Homo sapiens: one gene and its partner. The protein of the gene in region 2 purifies or fractionates together with the protein of the main gene of each other region. This does not show direct contact. Each region holds a gene or a part of one and is shown on either strand. Other genes may lie near its edges.

What was found. The genes of interacting proteins can lie anywhere in the genome.
Region 1: the proteins of LUC7L2 (region 2) and NCBP3 purify together in Homo sapiens (co-immunoprecipitation; 5 studies listed by BioGRID and IntAct, with this or other methods). This does not show direct contact.

The regions. Positions count from the first base shown.
Region 1 is NC_000017.11:3,843,232-3,850,242, forward strand, and holds the start of NCBP3 (nuclear cap-binding protein subunit 3), read right to left. Parts: upstream 3,016-7,011; 5' UTR 2,993-3,015; coding exon 2,810-2,992; intron 1-2,809. UniProt on the Homo sapiens protein: Associates with NCBP1/CBP80 to form an alternative cap-binding complex (CBC) which plays a key role in mRNA export. NCBP3 serves as adapter protein linking the capped RNAs (m7GpppG-capped RNA) to NCBP1/CBP80.
Region 2 is NC_000007.14:139,362,886-139,369,906, forward strand, and holds part of LUC7L2 (putative RNA-binding protein Luc7-like 2), read left to right. Parts: intron 1-7,021. UniProt on the Homo sapiens protein: May bind to RNA via its Arg/Ser-rich domain.

The DNA.
Region 1 (7,011 bases), on a different chromosome or scaffold from region 2:
GTTCTTTTTTCCTTTTTTTTTTTTTTTTGTTGGTGACAGTGTCTTGCTCTGTTGCCCAGGCCGGAGTGCAGTAGAATGATCACAGCTCACCGCAGCCTCGACTCCCCAGGCTCACGCCATCCTCCCCCTCAGCTGGGCCCTCAGGCATATGCCACCATGCCCAGCTAATTTTTTTTTTATTTTGTAGAGACAGGGTCTCCCTATGTTGCCCAGGCTGGTCACCAACTCCTGGGCTAAAGCAGTCCTCCTGCCTCAGTCTCCCAAAGTGTTAGGATCACATGTGTGAGTCATCACAACCAGTCTGGTTCTTTCTGTTTTTCTGTTTGTTTTTTGAGATGGAGTCTCACTCTTATCGCCTAGGCGGGAGTGCAGTGGCACAAACTCGGCTCACTGCAACCTCTACCTCCTGGGTTCAAGCGATTCTCCTGTCTCAGCCTCCTGAGTAGCTGGGATTACAGGCATGTGCCACCACCGCCAGCTAATTTTTTTATTTTTAGTAGAGACGAGGTTTCACCATGTTGGCATACTGGTCTCAAACTCCTGACCTCGGTGATCCGTCTGTCTCAGCCTCCCAAAGTGCTGGGATACAGGCATGAGCCACCACACCTGGCAAGTCTGGTTCTTTTTGAATAGCCACTCTTTTCAAAACCCTTCCCCACCCCTGACAACCTTTTATTAAGAAGCCCCATCCTAGTGATTCCATGGTATCAATCAACCACTCCAATAAGAAGATCAGAGCCTGTCCAAAAACTGAAGTGATTCCATCAACTCCAAGTATCCATGTAAAGAAAATCTAAAGGCTTTTGTGGAAAATGTCAAAAGATAAGGCACAGTCACTTAGCTCCCCAACCCAGTCTGAACGAATTCCTCATGCCCAGCCACCAGGTGGAGCACAACCCTCCACCTCAACGCAGAAGGTCCAGCCTCACCTAGAACTCCTGAGGCAAATACAGCACAGTGCAATGCAAAGGGGATGGGATTTGGAAACCAAGCGAGGACTGAAGCCTCAGCTCTGACAGTCACTAATTACAGGACACTGTATAGTTTTCTTGACCTCTCTGGGTCTCAGTTTCCTCTGTGGTATCTACCTGCCTTCCTGACCTCTTTTACTGCCCTTCCATTAGTACTACAGAAGTTTCCAACAATCCTGGACCCATCCCAGAGCCTCTGTGCTTGTTACTGGCCCTGCTGGGGGAACTCCTTTTCAATCTTCACAAGATTGGCTTTTTGTCATTTAGAGTTTATATGGAACATAAACTCCAGGAGGGAGGTTGAGCTTGATCAAGCACCTAGGGCTGTGCCTTGGTACATAGCGGGGGATGCAATAAATACATGTTGGCCGGACGCAATGGCTCAGGCCTGTAATCCCAGCACTTTGGGAGGCAGAGGCGGGCGGATCACCTGAGGTCAGGTGTTCGAGACCAGCCTGGCCAACATGGAGAAACCCCGTCTCTACTAAAAATACAAAATTAGCCGGGCACGGTGGCACATCCCTGTAATCTCAACTACTTGGGAGGCTGAGGCAGAAGAGTAGCTTGAACCCAGGAGGCGGAGGTTGCGGTGAGCCAAGATCAGGCCATTGTACTTGGCTACTCAGGAGGCTGAGGCAGGAGAATGGCTTGAACCCGGGAGGCGGAAGTTGCGGTGAGCCGAGATCGCGCCATTGCGTTCCAGCCTGGGCAACAAGAGCGAACTCCGTCTCAAAACAAAACAAAACAAAAACCATGTTGAACTGAATGACTAAAGGGATGATAACACCTGCTTCACAACTGCAGTAATATTTATTTATTTTGGTTTTGTTTTTGAGATGGGGAGAGGGGAAAGGGGGGACCTCAAAGGGGTCTTGCTATATTGCTGAGGCTGGTCTGGAACTTAGACTCCTGAATAGCTGGCACTAAAGGCGTGCACGGCCAGTATATTTAAGTGACACAATATAGTGAATGGTAAATGCTACTATATTAGCTGTTGTTAATCATAATTATAACGTTTGCCATCTCTAGCGATCATACTTTAACCTTTCTCCATAACTTCAGTCTAAATATGTTGACATGTGGTCAAAAGTAATTCATGTTAGGTGAGAAATTAAGAGGAGTCATCCAGGCCTGAAACCAGCTCTGAGAACTGGATATACAGCCACCAAGTCACAAGCAAAACACCTCTCACCATCCCCAGCGCGGTAAAGGAGGGACCAAGGATGTCTATTGGTCGTCTGCTAGTTTGCTTTCATTAAGAGTCAGATGCTGGGGCCACGGTGTAGGTGTCACTGGAGCTGCGGGGGGGGCAAGATGACCCCGAAGTCACGACAGAAACAGTGAGTTTCTGCTGCTGACAAGTGCAGCCCTCTCAAGACAAAGAGCGAGTGCCATGTTTCCCAGATACAAATTCCTCCGGGGCAAGACCCACAAGGAGACCTGGTTGCTGGCGCCACCCAACAGCTCCTTCTGGGCTGCCCCTGGTTCTGTTCCCGCCCAGGGCTCCCCCTTTATCTCATCCTTCCAGCCCCTCCTCACTCACCTCCTTGCACAGCGCGGCTCAGAGGGGGCAGCGGAGGGGGGTCCTCAACTCCCTCCCAGCTCTCCGCCACCACCCCCCAGCCCCCTCAACACCCATTTCCGGCGCCCCGGCGTCCTTTCTCCCGCTCCGCGTCCCTCCTCCAGCCCGGCGTTCCCGTTCCCAGGACGCTGGCTCCCTCCTCTCCCGCTCCCTTGACTTCCCCGGCTGGGGCTCCGGCCACCGCCCCTTCCGGCCCCCTCCGGCGCTAGACACTAGCCCCGCGACCTCTTCCTTACCCCCCGACCCCCGCCCGTACCGGGATCAGTTCCTTGAGCGAGCGCCGCACAGGCACGATTTCCAGCTCGCCCTCCTCCACCTCCATGGGCTCCGGCTCGCCACGGTCAACACCGGACTCCGCCTCAGGGGACGGGAGCCCCAGGGCCGGCCCCGCCGGGGCCTCCGCCTTCACCGACACCCGCAGGCCCCGTACGGCCGCCATCGCTGCCTGCCGGCCGCACCACTGAGAGCCCGCCCCTCACGGCCGCCGGCTAGAGCGCCGCTGCCACTGGCCACAGAGGAGCCGCCGCAGCTACCTAGAGCGTCGCCGGCTTCGGCCCAGAAGGCCGCCCTTAGCGCCGCCGCCCCCTGGTGGCGGGAGAAAACCGGGCCGGCTGCGCGGGCGGGACCTGGGGAGGAGAAGGCGGGACTGAGCGGGGACGGGGGCGGGGCCTGCGGGAACTACGGAGCTTGGAGGAGACCGGGGTAGTCAAGGGTTACAATGTAGCTACGCCTTGAGGCTAAAGCTGTACTAAAAGCCAACTTTCCTGAGTGATCACTATGGGCCAGACACTTCCAAGCGCTCGAACCCTTAGAACAACTCTATGAAGTAGATCCTATTTTGACCCCCATTTCATATATGAGGAAACTGAGGCATAGAAATTGACCCAAGGTGACGCCATTTAAGGGATAAAAGCTGGATCTAAGTCTTCCAGAGTTTACAATGAGCCTTGATATATCACCTCTGGACAATCTGTAGGTTTATAAAGTTACTTGCCTTGCCAGTCTTTGTCTCTTAAAAGTCTCCCCAAAATTGGCCCATGTTACATACACAAAAATTGAGACTCCAAGAGGGAGAGACCTGCCCAAAGGCCAGAACTTGGACGCCGATTTCCTGACTCCTGAGGGTGCCATCCACTGTAGACCTGTGAGCATAGTTTCCGGCGGATATTTCTAACGAGAGCCTGGTGGGGGAGAGGGGTTGTCTACGCGTCCCGAGGGTGTCACTGATCAGCTGCTGTTCTGAGTCCTGATTTTCTTTTTCTTTCTTTCTTTCTTTCTTTATTCCTTTCTTCCTTCCTTTCTTTCTTCTTTTCTTTCTTTCTCTTTTCCTTCCTTCCTCCCTCTCCTCTTTCTTTCTTTCTTTCTTTTTTTTTTTTTTTTTTGTAGAGACAGGGTTTCACCATGTTGACTAAGCTGGTCTCGAATTCCTAACCTCAAGCGATCCACCCGCCTCGGCCTCCCAAAGTCTTGGGATTACAGGCATGAGCCACCGCGCCCGGCCTGAGTCCTGATTTTGCATCTTCCTCCCTGGGTAACCTTGGACAGGTTTTTGGGTCTGTTTTCCCATCTGAGGAGGGCATAGGTGAGACCCTACAGTCTCTGAGGCCCTGAGGCCCTACCAGCTCTGACCATGGAGGAGCAAATAATGATAAACCAAGGAAGAGCATGGTCAGCATCAGACACACCTGGGTTTCGAGCTGGCTGGCCGGGCCCCATCCACCATGTGTGACCTTAGGCAAGCTGCTTAGCACTTTGGAGTCTCAGTTCCTTCATCAGTAAAATGGACCATTACCTACCTACAAAGGAGGTTGTGAGGGTTAAATGTGATAATTTATATGTAGATACAGGGTCCAACAGAAGGGGTGCAGTACATCACAGTTTTTCTTAAATTTGGGCTAAACCACAGGATAAACACAAGACAGAGCTCTTTAGAGGACTAGTTTTATTTGATGAATGGGACACAAAGTACTTTTAAAAATTGGGTTGAGGCCGGGCACGGTGGCTCATGCCTGTAATCCCAACACTTTGGGAGGCCAAGGCGGGCAGATCATGAGGTCAGGAGATCGAGATCATCCTGGCTAACATGGTGAAACCGTGTCTCTACTAAAAAAAAAAAATTAGCCGGGCATGGTGGCATGCACTACTTGGGAGGCTGAGGCAGGAGAATCACTTGAACCCGGGAGGTGGAGGTTGCAGTGAGCCGAGATCATACCACTGCACTCCAGCCTGGGCGACAGAGCGAGACTCCGTCTCCAAAAAAAAAAAAAAAAAATGGGTTGAATGCATACATAGAATATGTACGGGTGTGTGTGTGTGTGTGTGTTTAATTTCAAACAAAATGTGTAGTTGGGGTGGCCAGCTATAGGTAAGAGTCACAGCCCCCACCATTACTAGGCCTGTGGGGTTAGGGGATGGGAGAGGAGGAAGTAATCCCTCCTCAGCTATGGACACCAGGAGGCCAGTAGAGAAGGCTGGGCAGGCCCCTCACCCTGCTGGGGAGGATGCCTTGTTGCTTGAGGACGCAATTCGGTGAGGATTCAGTGTTGCAGTTCAGTGCCATCCAGAAGAGCCCCAGCACCCTGGCACACCAGCCGGCAGGTACATGAGGAGTCCAGGACAAGCCGGGACATCAGGCAAACACCAAGGCTCCTAGGCGCGTGTCAGGAAAGCCCTCTGTGCCTTGCTCTTTGTGGTCACCTTAGTCACCATCTCCCATCCCCTTTCCTGTTCGCGATGCAGCCTGCTGAGTTGGAGACACAGAGAATTTAGGAAGGTGGTAAGGGCTGATTTTCAAAAAGTTGAAAAACATGACTCTCAAACAGATGTAAAATGAACACATGTCAAAGCTGTTACCCAGTCATTAGAAAATGAGGAAACCAGTAGAAATATGAAGAATAGTTTGAAGGGGAACTTGAATGAATATGTGGTTGGTCAGTCAAAGGAATGCTGAGATGAATTTGACAAGGCAAGTTAATGTCCTGTAAGGCAAGAAACGATAACCTCCAGGACTCCCTTTACCACCAGACAGAAAACATTTGCATTACTACTGGACAAGAATTATTTACTTGTTATAAATTTTCTTTTTTTTCTTTTTTTGAGATGGAGTCTCGCTCTGTCACCCAGGCTGGGGTGCAGTGGTGTGATCTCGGCTCACTGCAAGCTCTGCCTCCCGGGTTCACGCCATTCTCCTGCCTCAGCCTCCCGAGTAGCTGGGACTACAGGTGCCCACCACCACGCCCGGCTACTTTTTTGTATTTTTAGTAGAGACGGGGTTTCACCGTGTTAGCCAGGATGGTCTCGATCTCCTGACCTCGTGATCTGCCCGCCTCGGCCTCCCAAAGTGCTGGGATTACAGGCGTGAGCCACCACGCCCGGCCAAATTTTCTTTTTTCTTTTTTTTTTTTCTTTTTTTGAGATGGAGTCTCGCTCTGTCACCCAGGCTGGAGTGCAGTGGCACGATCTCGGCTCACTGCAACCTCCGCCTCCTGGGTTCACGCCATTCTCCTGCCTCAGCCTCCTGAGTAACTGGGACTACAGGCGCCTGCCACCATGCCCAGCTAATTTTTTGTATTTTTTTTAGTAGAGACGGGGTTTCACCGTGTTAGCCAGGTTGGTCTCGATCTCCTGACCTTGTGATCCACCTGCTTCAGCCTCCCAAAGTGCTGGGATTACAGGCGTGAGCCACTGCACCCAGCCACCTGTTATGAATTTTCTATAAACCTCTACTCTCAGTTGTAAAATACCCTAATCAATAGTGCATAAGAAGTCAGACAAAGCTATACATCTGTAGAGAATCAGATGGTTCCCCAGGCAGATAACACCTGGCACAGTACCAACAGGGCATTTTCCTTTTTCTGTTTCCAAAGTCTGGATATATATTTTTTTTAGATGGGAGTCTCACTCTGTTGCCAAGGCTGGAGTGCAGTGGCACGAGCTTGGCTCACTGCAACCTCCCCCTCCCAGGTTTTAAGCAGTTCTCTGCCTCAGCCTCCCGAGTAGCTGGGATTACAGGCACGTGCCACTATGCCTGGCGACTTTCTGTATTTTTAGTAGAGACGGGGTTTCACCATCTTGGCCAGGTTGGTCTTGAACTCCTGACCTTGTGATTCACCTGCCTCAGCATCCCAAAGTGCTGGGATTACAGGCGTGAGCCACTGCGCCCGGCAAAAATTTTTAATTAATAGAGAAAATCAGGGGAATGGGACATTGGGACAGACTGGAGAGAGAGTTTTAAGAAGGGAGTGATCAAGTGTCATGTTCTGCCATAAGTTCACGATGGAACTTGTTTTGGGTCTAGAGGTTTGCTGGCCATTGGTGACTTTGAGGAGAGCAGAGTCCATGAAGGGGAAGGCACATTAGTGGGGAGATTTGAGCCAGTGTACACAACTCTCAGGAGAAGTAGGCTAGAGGGCAGGGAGGATATTAACAGGCTCTTCTAAAGGGTTCCTTTTCTGTGAT
Region 2 (7,021 bases):
ACTTGAATTACATAAAGTAGTTAATCATTTAGATTACCTAAACTTCACTGGAATCCTTAGGAGTAGGAATTTTGTTAGCAGGGAAATGGAGAGGTAATTTTGGATCACTGGGCACTTCAAGAAAGGACATTCCTGGGTGAGTGGTGGAAGTTGGGGGCTTTAGACAATCTGAGGGCAGCATGATGGTGCCGGGAGGCTGGGCAGGGGGACTGCCAGGAGGTGGGAGAGAAATGCATAAGGGAGGTGGGAGGGCCAAAGACAAACTCTGCCTTCTTTGCAATTTTGCCTAGGGCCCTGGTGGTGGCAACCGCCTGTGTGCCACTGAAAATCGTGCCGATGCCTGGCATACTGCATAAATGGAAGCAGGGTACCGCGTGAGTTGAAACATTGGTCACACTATATAAAGTTTGTATATGTGAATCAGTGTAACTCATACCCATATAACTGGGGGTCTGACTGTATTTGGATTTTTCTGATAAGGCATCATGGGCTAAGGAAAAGAGCACTGGGCTGAGACTCAGGAGACCTGGTTTCTAGCCCCAGCTGTACCTCTAATTGTAACCTTGGGTAAGTCACTTAACCTTTTTTGCCTCAAGTTAAATCTGTAATTTGTTATATGGGAAACCAAATAATTTCCTATGTTATACTCAGAAATGTTGAAAAATAAATATATTTTAAGTTTTTTTAGAAAGGAGCTATAAGTAGATAGTAATTACTAGTTTATTTTATCTTGTTTATGATTCATTACGTTTTATAAATATCTTTCTGTTTTAGTTGTTAGCAGAGGGGAGAGGGATAATTTGTTTTCCCTGAACATATTCATTCTATTTGAAAGCAGGGAGGAGTTGCACAGGAAAATCCAAGAAACAGTTTGAGAATTGTCTGTGTGACAGTTGGAAGAACCCAGTACCCTCACACAGACTGTGATTTTTGCTCAGTTGGATTAATTGCAAGGATGTTCCTTAGCTAAAGCCCCTTTGCCAACAAACACAGTTTGGTCATAAGTCTCTAGTCTTGATCCCAGGAAAGTCTGGGAAGATGCAAGCAATAAGAATTAAATAAAATTGAGGGTGTGGATTTAGATTACATCCTTTTTTTTTTTTTTTTTTTTTTTTTTTGAGACAGGGTCTCTGTTGCCCAGGCTGGAGTGCAGTGGCACGATCTCGGCTCACTGCTACAACCTCCACCTCCTGGGTTCGAGTGATTCTCCTGCCTCAGCCTCCCGAGTAGCTGGGATTACAGGTGGCTGCCACTACGTCTGGCTAATTTTTGTATTTTTAGTAGAGATGGGGTTTCTCCATGTTGGCCAGGATGGTCTCGAACTCCTGACCTCGGGTGATCCACCATGCCCAGCCTAGATTACATTTTAAGCTTAGAAATTAGGTAAGTTATAGAAGGTAGTTCTGAGGGTTCTGTATCTCTTAATTGCTTATACCTTTAAATGGGAGCAGAGACCACCTTCGAAAGATTAAAATAGGCAGGAATGGCAGCCTGCCCTCCAAAACAACAAGTAGACTAGGAATGTTAGATAGAATTTTATAGCATCATTAATTGTCCCTTATGGTTAGGGACTGTTTCGGGCAAGTTAAAACTTTCAATAATTTTAACTATTTTAAATGTTAATCTTTCTAAATTGTAGGATATACTTCCTCAGTTAACATATTAATCATAATATTTTTGCTGATCAGTTGTACAGTAGTTATAGTTTGTGGGATATAAAACTGAAAGGATACTCATCCTCATACCCAGGAAAATACTGTTAAGAAAGCCATTTACTTGTTGCTAATGTAAGGTTAGTAGTACATAACCGTGTAATCTGTAAGATAGTATGACATTTCTGCCTTTCTGCAAAATTACTGAATCAAAGTTTGAAGTAGTGCGTTCTTTAATGGATTTTATTTATAAAATCATCTTTACTGTAATCTGTGTTCCTTGACTTTTCATCAACATTGAAAACATTTTCTCTTAATTTTTTCTCATTAACATAATGAACCATATTCATTTCTTGGTCAGTTGTGAGCCATTCTTTTATTCCACTTGGATTGTTCATTTTAAGTGAAGGAGGCGGAGCCTTTAATGTATACGCAGACATTTTTTAAATAATAACAGGATATTTCTTAGTCTAGAGCTTGTAAATTCTTTAATATAAGGAGTTTTATAGGATTAAACAGTAGTTTCTCTGCGTTTCAGTTAACTATTTAACTTTATCAGAGTTTCAGGCATATCCAAAACACTGAAAGCACCTGCATAGTGAATCAATGAAAAAAGAAAAGTTTTCCTCATTTTGCATTTTGAACTCTGAATAATATTTCTATCTACACAGCAGCCCAGAAAACAATAAAAGTATCACTTCATATAACATTGCATCGTTCCTGGATTCTCTACAGTTGTTTAGTTCTCCTCAAGTAAGCATATGCTTCTGAGACATTCTTTTACTTCAGGTAAATATAAGCAAAACAAAGAAAAATCATTTTGTCTATTTCTGCATCAGTTCTATAAGGAGCAAGTAAATTCTTTTATTTTCGTTTAGGTTGGATGTTGTCATATAAGGATAGATGGTAGTGTTCAACGTGTTCAAGATGGGTAGTAGGAATTCAATGGCCATGAGGTGTCATGGATCAAGGTCAGGTTTAGTGAATCAGGTACTCTTCAGTAACAGGTGGTTCATACAAAGCATTGAAGCTTAAAGTTGCTGTGAGTTCAGCAAGCAGGAGGGTTGAGAAGACAGGCAGATGGTTTAAAACTAAAGGTCAATAAGTGGGCAAGACTAGTTAAATGAGGCAGATACTCCCCAAAGATGGAATTCCAGAAAGGTGCTTGAAAAGGACTGAATTCTTAAAGCCTACTGCTGTTAGTATGTAGAGTTCTTGAGGAAACAAGCAGTTTGGCATAACTTAATCTACTAAGAAACTATAAGAAGGTGAAGGAAGTTGGAACATCTTACTGGAAAAAGAATGAGGGAGTGAAGAGGGAATCTTGTGAATTCAAAACTTGCAGAAAAGCTATTCTGTTTCCTTTTTGTTTAGGTTCTCATGCACTAGCAGCTGCTAGAATAGATATTGGAAGGCAGGGCCAAAATAGGTCAGTTGTTCAGTTTTGCAAGATTATTGAGGATATAGAGAAATTAATTTGTGAAAACTCTGAAATCATCTGCAGCTCCATGTTTTTGTTTGAACTGAATAACTTAGGACTTTGAGAAGTCAAAGCCGTCAGAAAGTAACATGAAGTCCATTCAGCTGAATAAATGTCATATTTTGCTATTAGCATAGAAAAGAATCTTTAAAACTTCTTTCCAAAAAGCACTCAGTATTGACCCATATGTTCCAGTATAGTTGTGAACCATGTACAACTGATGTTTGACTTATTTGACTCAACATGAAAGGAATTTAACCAGCTGCCCTTGCTGAATCTTGTCTCCTGAATATGGTAAATGGTTTTTGTTTTTAATCTTAATACCTTAGATTTCTGCAGACCCCAGTTTTCTCTTTTAGAGTTAACTGATAATTATTGGATAGTATCTATAATATACCTGGCTGTTCTGTTCTGTACTGTGCTCTAGTATTAGTTTAAATGGTAGACTTTTCTCTTAAAGTAACTTTAATAGTTTAATAGTTAAAGTTACTTGAAGGTATGTTTTAGATCAGGGACTGGCACTATGGCCTCCTGCTTTTGGTAAATAAAGTTTTATTGGAACACATCCATGCCGATTCATATACATGATGTCTATGGCTGCTTTGGCTTACGACAGCAGAGCTGAATGGTTGCAACAGAGTCATATGGCCCGCAAACCGAAAACATTTACCATTTGACTCTAACAAAAGCTTGTTGATCACCATTCTGGTTTAGTTATTCTAAACCAAGTGTGGTCCTTGGAGCAGCAATTCAGCATCACCTCAGCATCACGTCGTATTGTTAGAAATATAAATTCTTGGACCCACCTACTGAGTCAGAAATTCTGGATATGGGCCCCAGCAATCCATGTTTTTAGAAACCTTCCAGGTGATTCTGATACACATTAAAAGTTTGAGAAACCCTCTTCTAGATCAGTGTTTCCCAAATGTTTGTCACACTTATTGCCTTTATTATTATTTATTTTTATTTTTTATTTTTTGGAGACAGAGTCTCTGTCTCCCAGGCGTGAAATGCAGTGGCCTGATCTTGGCTCACTGCAACCTCCGCCTCTCGAGTTCAGGCGATTACCCTAGCTTCCCGAGTGGCTGAGATGACAGGCATGCACTGTCATGCCCTGCTAATTTTTGTATTTTTAGTAGAGATGAGGTTTTGCCATGTTGGCCAGGCTGGTCTCAAACTCCTGACCTCAAGTGATCTACCTGCCTTGGCCTCCCAAAGTGCTGGTATTACAGGCGTGAACCACCATGCCTGGCCTTGCCTTTATTATTATTTACTGTTTTCTGTTTATTTAATATTTTCCTTTATGTCAACTCACTTTCTAAAAATTTTAAGTTAATTTTAAAATGAAAGTTTATACCACCATAAAAATAAATACAATGAAAACAAAATGGTGTATTATGTAACTAGACTCTTGTCACTTAGGGTTCCTGTGCTAAAAATTAGAAGTTGTTAAATTTATTAAACAAGTACTGTTGCAAAATGGGAACTTTTTTTCTTGACTTAATTGTGATTAATAATTTCCTTACTGAGTGGTATTTAAAATGTCTTGTTGGCAAAATCATGTAACACCTAAAGTCATCTTTTGTGCAAATCTCATACTTTGGAAATTACTGTTCCAGGGAGTATTCATGTGAAAGGAAAGCTGTTTGAACTATATATATACCTAAGCCTGTAAGCAGAAATGACTGGACAGAAATACAAGCCTGTGAGACAGAGAGATCTAGGAGATCCCTAGAGAGGTCCATCAAGACCTCCAGGATGAAATTACCTCATTTAGCTCAATTTCTCACCTCTCCGTTAGTGCTTTGGTCCACGGGGGTCAGTGTTTCTGCAGGATTTCACCAACTGGTTCCACAGTGGGAATGTGAAGAGGTACCTGGCTGTGGGAAAAGCTGCTTATCAAAGAGAGGCCTGATAGAAATGCTAGGGAAAGTGGCTGTGAGCCTGCATTATGGACGGGAGCAGAGCGGCAGGGCATGTTGCTAGGACTAAGCAGTCGATTCACGTGAGTCTGGACACCATGTATAAATATTTTGAAAACTTCCTGTTACAATTTAATTTACTCCATTGTGTTAGAGGGAGTGCTTCCCTGCACATGGTGTTCTGTATATTTATTGGTTGATGTGCTTTAGGGTATAGTAATTATTTATAGCAATAGATTGATACCCAGGTTGCAGAGTTGCTTTAGTTATATCTTTATTTCCTTTTCTTAGAGATTATAGACATAATTTGCTTCTGTCATCTTTTGACCAAAAATCTAATGGGAATGAAGAATTACACTTGAATGTTTATTTTTAAGTAATAAGTTCTGTGATAGTGATTATAGGTGTCTGCATTTAAAAAAATGTTTTAAAAAGTACAGAGGTCAAACAAGCATCTGTATGATTGAACAAATGTTATTTCGTATATTTCTGTCAAATTTTAAAAAATGGATAAAGAGGCCGGGCACTGTGGCTCACGCCTGTAATCCCAGCACTTTGGGAGGCCAAGGTGGGTGGATCACCTGAGGTCAGGAGTTCAAGACCAGCCTGGCCAACATGGTGAAACCTGTCTCTACTAAAAATATAAAAATTAGCCAGATGTGGTGGTGGGTGCCTGTAATCCCAGCCACCCGGGAGGCTGAGGTTGGAGAATTGTTTGAACCCAGGAGACGGAGGTTGCTGTGAGCCCACATGGTGCCAATGCACTCCAGCCTGGGCGACAGAGTGAGACACCGTCTCAAAAAAAAAAAAAAAGTAAAAAGTGCATAAAGCATTACAAATAAAGTCTTTTGTGGTCCCCTTCACCGTCTCAGTCCTTTCCCCAGAGGCAACCCTTTTTGTAAATTTGTTGCATATTCACTGTGAGGCAGTATTTCTGCTGTGTTGTTTAGTTTTAAGGCTCACGTCTCCTTCATGGTGATCTGTTTTTCATTTTAACTTCTTCCTTTATCATTGGGTTGTCTATCACCTCTGTCCCTTGATATTTTCATCTTTTTTTTTCTTTTTTATTTCTTTTCCTTTGGATTTGGGGAGGCTCTAGTTGGCTTCTGTAGCTATCACCAGCTGATGAGAACTTGTCTTTTTTAATAGATAAATCAGCCAGTTACTTTTTCTTTGATTATTTTCAGCTATTGCTTGATAGCCAAAGATAGCTTTCGTTACTTCTAATTTTGTATATAGAAAGTTCTGGATGATAGAAGGCACCGGCTATCCAGAGTGCAATTGTTACTATGTCAGAATTACAGCTCTGCAAGTAAGTATCAAAATATAAAATTTAGCAGGCTGTAACTTTTTATGCCATATATCTTAAAATAAATTCTATATAACCTATTTTAGGACTTAATGTTAAAGTAACTATTCAGGCTTTTCTGATGTCTCTTGTAAATTTAAGAAGAGGAATAGGCTGATAGATTTCCTAAAGCACATACCCCCCAAAACATGATAGCATTGGTCCCTGCCAGCTACCAAGACCCTTTGCTTGTATTAATATAATGAGAGAAGATAGGTGCAGGGCATGGAATAGAGCCTTGGAATGGAGATTCTTTAGTATTCCTGTTCTCACATTTTCATCATCACCATTCTGGTTAGCTTCAAAAGATCCTACAAGGTTTTTCTTCTACTAACAAGGCTGTTCCCCAGTTTCATTCTTATAATCTTGTGATATGGATTTTCACAGACAAGTGGGCCAGATTTTTAACATTTTAAAAACATTAATCTTTGATCATATCCAGCAAGAATGAACTTGTTCTGGAGATTTCTTCTACAGTGGGCATCACATTTTAAAAATGTTTGGCTTGTCATGGGGATTATGGTGGGGGGTGATACTGGTACCTATTTCTGATTATAAACTTATGGGACCATATGAACCAGAAGATTAAGAAGGATAGCTTTTCTGAGCTGTATAGCAC